Regions from separate parts of the Homo sapiens genome. Here region 2 is reported to be linked to region 1. Evidence: microRNA targets listed by miRTarBase, many of them from high-throughput screens and not tested one by one. Region 1 holds a microRNA gene; the other region holds the end of a gene's coding sequence.
Evidence for each region. The annotated mature microRNA hsa-miR-665 reads ACCAGGAGGCUGAGGCCCCU and lies in region 1 at 2,232-2,251, shown strand. An mRNA with a match to its seed (bases 2 to 7 or 8) in the 3' UTR can be bound and repressed. Matches are read on the target gene's strand: a 7mer-m8 pairs with bases 2 to 8, a 7mer-A1 pairs with bases 2 to 7 and ends in A, and an 8mer does both.

Region 1 (4,067 bases):
CACATCAAGTCCTCTTTCTTGTGTTACTCCAAGTCCCTGCCCCCATATGTCACAGAGAGACTCTTCCCACCCACGTGTCACACCAAGTCGCCTTTCTTGTGTTACTCCAAGTCCCTTCCCCCCATATGTCACACAGAGACTCTCTTCCCACACACGTCACACTGAGCCCCTTTTCTGTCTCACATTCCACCTCTCCTTCACTCATGTGTCATGAGGAGCCTTTTCCCTACTAATGTGTCACCTGAGCTTCTCTCACATGTCACTTGAAGTCCTCCCCTTCCCATGCATCACCCAGAGACCTTCCCCCCACTCATGCATTGCCCTGAGCCCCTCCCTTACTTATGTGACATGGAGCCCCTCTCCACACCCATGTGTCACACCAACCCTCTCTCCACTGATGTGTCACACCAACCCCCTCTCCACCCATGCGTCACATGGAGCTCTTCCCCCACCCGTGTGTCACACCAGCCCCCTCCTCCACCCATGTGTCACACTAACCCCCCCCACCCATGTGTCACACCAGCCCCCTCCTCCACCCATGGGTCACACCAACCCCCTCCTCCACCCATGTGTCCCATGGAGCTCTTCCCCCACCCGTGTGTCACACCAGCCCCCTCCTCCACCCATGTGTTACAGGGAGCCCCTCCTCCCTCCATGTGTCTGTCAATCTGAGCCCCTTTTCCATTCATGTGTCACTCTGAGCCTCTTTCCCACCTCCATACCCTCCTGCCACCCCTACTTCTTAATCTTTAACCCCTTTCCCTAAAGGTTTCCCTCCATGGGCTCTTTCAGAGAATGTTATATTATCAGGTCATTTACTCACAGATATTTTTGCACCACCTACCACGTGCCTGGCTGCGTGTCCCTGTGCATGTGTGTTGGTGGTGTGGATGGCTGGAGAGTGTAGGACGAGGCAGGCAGTATGGTGGTTGAGAAAGATGTCAAAGAACAAAGGAAGGTGTTTTGGGGTACAACTTTATTGAGATGTAATCCACATACACACAATCCGCCCATTAAAGCTCACAGCGAAGTGTGTTTTAGTTATTCACAGATATCTGCAACTATCACCATAATCAATTTAAGATCATTTTCATCACCCCCAAAAGAACTCCAGAGCCTTCAGCTGTCACCTTCACCCTCCATGCACACCCCCCAGCCCTCAGCAACCAAAAATCTACTTTCTGTCTCTGGGAAATTCTTGAAGTGCCCCTGGACTTCATGAGTCCTCACTGGGTCCCCAGAGGTGCCTGTTGCAACCCATTTCACAGATGTAGAAGGCAAGGCTGGAGAAGTACCAGGGAGTCAAAGCAGTGGGTGGGTGGGGTCGAGTCCCCGATGTCCACTCACAGACCTGGGCCAGAATCAGGCCTGTCTCCCCCTTCACCTCCCCATCCTCCGTCCCTTGGCCTGGCTGCACAGTCACCTGGGGGCTCTGTGGGGCTAAGGGAGGCCCAGGCCCTGGCCATAGGAGGCAGGTAGGGCAAGGCTGGGCAGGGTGGACAGGTACCCCAGCGCTGCAGGTGCCCAGCAGTGGGTGGCACTGCCTAGGCTGGCTGTCCCTTGCTGTCACTGCTCTAACCACTAGCAGCAGGCGTCCCCTCTGCCATCCGAGCGCTTGCACTGCGCTTCCGGGAGGAGGGTTGCGGCCCGTAGTCAGTAGTTGGGGGGTGGGAACGGCTTCATACAGGAGTTGATGCACAGTTATCCAGCTCCTATATGATGCCTTTCTTCATCCCCTTCAACCACGCGCAGCCCCCGGACCCTCCTCTGCACCCTTGGCTGCACGGGGACGCGTCCTCAAGTCCGCTGCTGTCCTGCCAGCCTCTTCCCGGCATGCTCCTTGGGCTCTTCTCTCTCTCTTCTGCAGCTCTCTGACTTCCTGGAGGGGAGGGCCTGGGGCTGGGCCATCTCTGAGGCCCCTCCTTGGCAGGGAACTATGCCCCTGGTGGGACACCCCCTGGGCTGACTCCACAGCCAAGGGCAGATAGGCCGGAGGGGGAGTTGGGTAGCCCTGGGGCTTCTCCCACTGAGGGGCTGGGGCTGTGCTCCCACACAGAGCCCTCCAAAGGGACCCGGCCCACAGGATGGATGGACAGACGTTGGAGAGATGGTGCCCCTTTGTGCCCAGGGTGGAGGGGGTGGGGCTTTGGCGGACCAGGGCTGGCCCTTTCTGTGCCCCAAGAGGAGGGTCTCCTCGAGGGGTCTCTGCCTCTACCCAGGACTCTTTCATGACCAGGAGGCTGAGGCCCCTCACAGGCGGCTTCTTACTCTCTCCTTAAACCTGTTCTGGAGACATTTCCCCTCTCCCCAAGGATTCCCAACTCTGGGTCCCCAGAAGCTGTCAGCTGGGCTCCCTTCTTCCCCTGTGCGTACCCTGCTCAGGCTGGGTACCTGAGGGTGCCCAATGGCAACATGAGCAGGGGGCACGGCCGTGGCCCCTGGTTCTTGGACCTCTGTCTTCTGCCTCTCTGACTAACTCAGGTCCTGTGCATGGCAGAGGTGACCCGCACCAAGCCCTGTGATATTGGCATCATTAACCCCATTAACAAGCCACGACAGCCAGCCCAGGCATGAGCATCGGGGCAGCAGGGCAGCCAGTGTGGGGAGAGAGGCCTTGCAGTAGCTGAGGCCATTAGAGAGGACAAGAGGGTGCAGGAGGGAGCATCCTCACCTCTGCCCTTCCCACTTACATCCCATCTCCCCTTCCTCACCCCTCCTTCCCCATGCACCCCTTCTTCCTGTAGGAGGGAGCACCCTCACCTCTGCCCTTCCCACTCACCTCCCATCTTCCCTTTCTCACCCCTCCTCCCCAATGCACCCCCTCCCTTCCTGCAGGAGGGAGCACCCTCTCCCCTGCCCTTCCTTCCCACCTCCCGTCTCCCCTTCCTCACCCCCGCTTCCCCCATGCACCCGCTCCCTTCCTGGTCTACCCCTCAGCTTCTGTGGTGTCAGGATGGGTATGCTTGTCTTTGTTGATCTCAGACAGGTGGACAGGGGTCTGGACGAGGCTTACTGTTTGGGTCTGAGGTCAGTGCTCATGGGCTTGGGGCATGACAAGGGTCTTGTCGTCCCCGCAGCAGGGCTCTGAGCGGGTGGGTGGAGCTTGGGAGTGGGGGTGATGGCTTCTATTTGTTGTCTTTCTCTTTTTCACTTTGGGAGCAACCGGGGTCACCAGGTGGGCAGGAGGGGACCTCACGTCTCTGCCCTGGGCAGATTGTTAAGAGCTGGTCAAGCTCCTGGCACGGGGGCCTGAGTCCAAGGCCCTAACTGGACCTGGGGCCGCCTGCAGGAGGGATGAGCGAGTCCGGACCCGAGCGGTGAGTAGCCCTCAGCTGCCTGGGTGGTGTGCTGTTGAGTGTTCCAGAAACTGGCCCTGTGTGCACCAGGGCTGGAGGCTGGCACGTTGGGCATCTCATGGGGGTGGGCTGGGTCGGGAAGGGAGGTTGATGGACAAGACTCAGCAGGAGTGGAGCTCAGGGCTCCCTCCATCCCCTGACATCAGTGACCTGGGGGTGGACAGAGAAGGTGGAAGATGGGTGCATTTAGTTGTGGCCCGCCAGGTCCCGTGGGCCTGTGTGCCAGTGTCCGCGCCAGGCTGTGCTGTCTGCTGTTCAGAGGAGTTTTCACCTTTTTTTGTGGTGGCCATGATGTCATAACCCAGCATGACATTTAACATTAACCTTCCTTTTTCTTTCCCCAGGAGAAAAAAAGGTTTGTATTATTTTTCTTTTGAATTTTTTATTTCCATAGGTTTTGGGGAACAGGTGGTGTTTGGTTACATGAGTAAGTTCCTTGGTGGTGATTTGTGAGATTCTCGTGCACCCATCACCTGAGCAGTACACACTGAACCCAGTTTGTACTTTTATCCCTCACCCCCTCCCACCCTTTTCCTGGAGTCCCCAGAGTCCGTTGTATCACTTTATCAGTAGTTCTCCTCTGGGCCTGGGGGCTGCCGCTCTTCTCTGTAAACTAAACCTGCTGTGGCTGGATGGGGCAGGGGAGCCAAGGAGGCGAGGTCCTCACTGTCTGCTGGTGTGGGGGGCCGTGGCCACTCTAGCACCGGGAGC
Region 2 (4,057 bases), not on the chromosome of region 1:
CAGTGGAACTTGGATAATACCTCCCTTACAGAGTCACTAAGAATTCAGTGAGTTGTCTCTAATGTGACAATATACTAGCATTTGGTAGGTCCTCAATAAATGGCATTCTTATGATCCAGGACAGCAGAAAAAGCTGAGAGTATGTTACTACAAAGTAATTTTTTAAAGACAACAGAAGTCACAATGAAACATGCTTTAAGGTTAATGCTTTAATGTATTGACATTTTCACTTACAAATGTACAATTTGCGTATGTAGGAAAAAATCAGTTCTCTAGACACAACAGAATACTACTAGAGACGGGAAAGCAATCACAAAAAGATCAACTCTGGGGAGAAAGTGGAACTGCATTCCATGCCTTGTATCTACATACACTAGGGAAGGAAAAAGAAATATTACACAGGATCAAAACTTGTGGAAAATACACTTGGGTCATTTTGTCTCAACTGCAGGACCTTCTTATGATCCAGATGGCTACCTTAAGTCCTGGATAGCCTAAAATGGGCAAAGTCTGGCCTTGTTCACAAATGATGATCCAAAACATTAACCACAGTTCTCCTTCTCTTTAGTATCCAAGACCCTGAAGTTGACTCAAGGAATGAAAAGAACAATCAGATCAGCATGTATATAATATCATTGGCCAACTTCTTCAAGGTATGGATTATTTAAAAGTACACATGGAAGTAAAATGCTTACTCAAACCTGAATAAGAAGTTTCTTGTAACTCAAGCACTTCTTGACTCACACTAAGTGTAGCACTGTAAACAAAAGACATCGTTGAGAAACTGAGGCTATCAAAACATTGGCATCTATGGGAGTTGTGGCCAAGGAAATAAAATACCTGAGCAACCTTATACCCAGTATGCATTTCATACCAGGATCAAGTCACTAATGACAGCCAAGTTCCAGGCTTATCTATGGCTGCCTAATGAGACTGGCCCCACTAGGATGGGGACTGGGGAGGGGACACACATGAGTGCCCAAGCTTCAGTCTACACCTCCCCCCTTCAGCCAGAAGCAGCCAGGGGAGCACAGGGACATCTGCTTCAAGAGCATTTTGGCAGCAAAAATCAATACTCTGTGGTTCCTGGAATTCCCACCCAGTAATTCCAAGTTCAAAATTACCACCAGTGCAACATGAAAAACTGTTAATAGTTTTTAAGTAAAGTGTACATACAGCTTTAATAACGATTATAATCTGAAGAAAGCCATTCTTCTTATACAGGATGGAAAATCCTCAAAGCAACATTTTAAACCATGGACACTAGAGTTGTCATACATCTATTCAGAGATGAGAGATAAACAGACATCCTTCCATGTGGAAACAGACACTCCCATGTCAACAAGTCCCCTAGGATCAGAGAGAAAAGCAGACCCGTGGTCATCACTAGGTGTCTCTGGTGTCTCGCTAAAGATGGAGTCCTATGTAGGTTGGCCTAAGTTGGCCTCAGAGGGAGGTGGCTGAGCAGCAAAGCAAGACAGCATGTGTGTAACCAGCCAGGCAAAATAACAAGTCTGTGCTACCTGGAGTGTATTTTCAGGAAAACAGGACCATATGGAGTGTGGGGCAGGGACATTCGCTGTGCTAAACTGCCACTGTAAAAGCACACTGTTGAAAGCATGCAGGACAGAAAACTGCAATAATTCAGAGCTTGAAAACAAGAAATAACAGAAATATGAATATTTCAAATACACACTTCATATACTGAAAATAAGAGCATTTGAAGAAAGGCTGGAATGGGTTTTCCAAAGACTCACACATTTTGGGGTTCCAAATTCAATGTTCTAAGCTTCTCTATCACAAAGAGATCAAGAACAAAAGCAAAGCTGGGGGTCCTGGCCAGGCTGAGTGGTACCTTGAGCCGGTCCCTGTGTCCTGAGGGTCCCTGGGCCCCATATCCCATCCATAACCCAAGTCTGCTCAGCTACAGTCTGCCCTGGTGCTCAGTGAACAGCCACAGAGTCCCACTTCTGCACAGGATGGGCCTTCAGAGTGATGAGAGAGCATCTCCCGCACAGTGCAAACCCCCAAAGGCCAGAAATGGGAACGCTCTAACTAAGGCTCTCCTTCCACTCCCTCACTGTTCCTTTAATATTACTCTCTCAGCAAGTAGAAAAATAGGCTATAAGGAGGCTTAGGCAGACACACACTCAAACAGCCTCTTGGAATAAAGCAAATCTGCCTCCACATACTTGTTTGTATATTGTTCTGGCTTCTCCAGGATTTTTTTTTTTTTTTTGAGACAGAGTCTCACTCTGTCACCCAGGCTGAAGTGCAGTGGCACTATCTTGGCTCACTGCAAGCTCCGCCTCCTGGGTTCACACTATTCTCCTGCCTCAGCCTCCCGAGTAGCTGGGACCACAGGCGCCTGCCACCACGCCCAGCTAATTTTTTGTATTTTTAGTAGAGATGGGGTTTCACCGTGTTAGCCAGGATGGTCTCGATCTCCTGACCTCGTGATCCGCCCGCCTCGGTCTCTCAAAGTGCTGGGATTACAGGCGTGAGCCACCGCGCCCAGCCAGCTTCTCCAAGTTTTAAAGGATTAAAGCCCTCAAACTCTCAGGCTTAAATCAATTCCTAATGTGGGATATGTTCTCCAAGTATGCCTACCAAAGCCATACAAGAATAAAGTGAGCAGCAGCAGCAGCTAGGGTCAGGCAGATTTCTGAAGCATGATTGTTCAAAGGCGGGCTGTGCCCCATCATCCTGAGCCATCGGCCTTGCCAGGGGCCTGTGGAGCCCCAGAGGGCAGGACGGGGGCTCTCACACCATAGCCTCGGGAAGTACCTGGGAGCTTACCAACCCACAACTCCTAAAGTAACATGCAACCAGTTCTGGTCTGTGGTTTGAAAAAGTTAAACGCAAAGAAGCTGTAGCTTTTCTTGCCACAATCACTCAATAGGCATACAACACTATATTACTGGCATAACATGAAAATAAATTAACCCTTAAGCACTACACCTAACTCTAAAAAGAAAATGCCTTTCAAAACAGGTATGCTCAAATAAGGTATTCTGAGAGTTGCACAAGAACAGTCTTGGAATGAGCCAGTGCCCCCGGAGAGTCAACATTTGAACAAAATAGCACAGTTCAAACCCTTCTCTGTGGTACTTATGTGGATTAGTACAATTATGACATCACTACTTTCAAAGGAATGATTAAAACTATTATTAAAAACTTTTGTCACAAACAGAAATGCCCTGCAAATCATATTATTGCACACAGGGTTATCAGAAGCTATGCACATCAAGACCTTGAGGCCCCTAGAAGACCCAAAATAGAGACCCTAAGGCCATGCCCGTGGCTGCTCCTGCCAGCATGCCCAGTGCCAGGTCGCTGTCGTTGTCTCGATAGCGCTCTCGAATGATGACTTGGTTAGCAGGCTGCTGTCCATAAAGTCCTAAAAGAGAAGGAAAATAGCAGATTTCTGAGCAGCGGTTTGTGAAGTTTAACATCACGCAAAGTACCAGTTCTCCTTTCACAAAAGGGATCTGCTGTCTCCTGTCACACTGGCGACCCAGCCCTCCTCCACAACAGGCACATCATGTGGCCGACATCCCTGAAACCGCACACTGGGAGGAAACCAAGATCCTCAGCTCACTAAGGGCCAAAGTCCCTAATCTGCAAAAAGCAGAACCCTAATGAAGCTTTCAGATTCTAGCCTCTGATTTCTACTTCAGCCCTCGACACCATGCTTATTGGGTGGCAGACAAATGGGGAACATGGGAGACACACAGTGCCCAACAAAAGCCCAAAAAGGAAATGCTCACTTAAAGCAAATGAGCTTCTTAGTATGCACGCAAACCAATTTTTAAATTAAGCCTTAAATCTGCACATATAACTTTTTTTTTTTTTTGAGAAGGAGTCTTGCTCTGTCCCCAGGCTGGAGTGCAGTGGCATGATCTCAGCTCACTGCAACTTCCACCGCCCAGGTTCAAGCTATTCTCCCACCTCAGTTTCCTGAGTAACTGGGACTATAGGCGCCCACCACCACGCCTGGCTAATTTTTTGTATTTTTAGTAGAGACGGGGTTTCACCGTGTTAGCCAGGATGGTCT

Region 2: miRTarBase lists PLEKHB2 as a target of hsa-miR-665. Seed matches in the 3' UTR shown: 7mer-A1 at 2,217-2,223.

The regions. Positions count from the first base shown.
Region 1 is chr14:100,872,844-100,876,910 of GRCh38, forward strand. It overlaps MIR665 (microRNA 665), which reads left to right and starts at 2,190; the gene lies at 2,190-2,261. MIR337 (microRNA 337) reads left to right here and starts at 1,650; the gene lies at 1,650-1,742. RefSeq lists an enhancer at 829-998.
Region 2 is chr2:131,145,980-131,150,036 of GRCh38, reverse strand. PLEKHB2 (pleckstrin homology domain containing B2) reads right to left here. Exons shown (of 8, transcript NM_001100623.2): 8 at 192-3,400. The coding sequence ends at 3,264. Among named protein-coding and RNA genes, the nearest start is that of PLEKHB2, 43 kb to the right of the region's middle.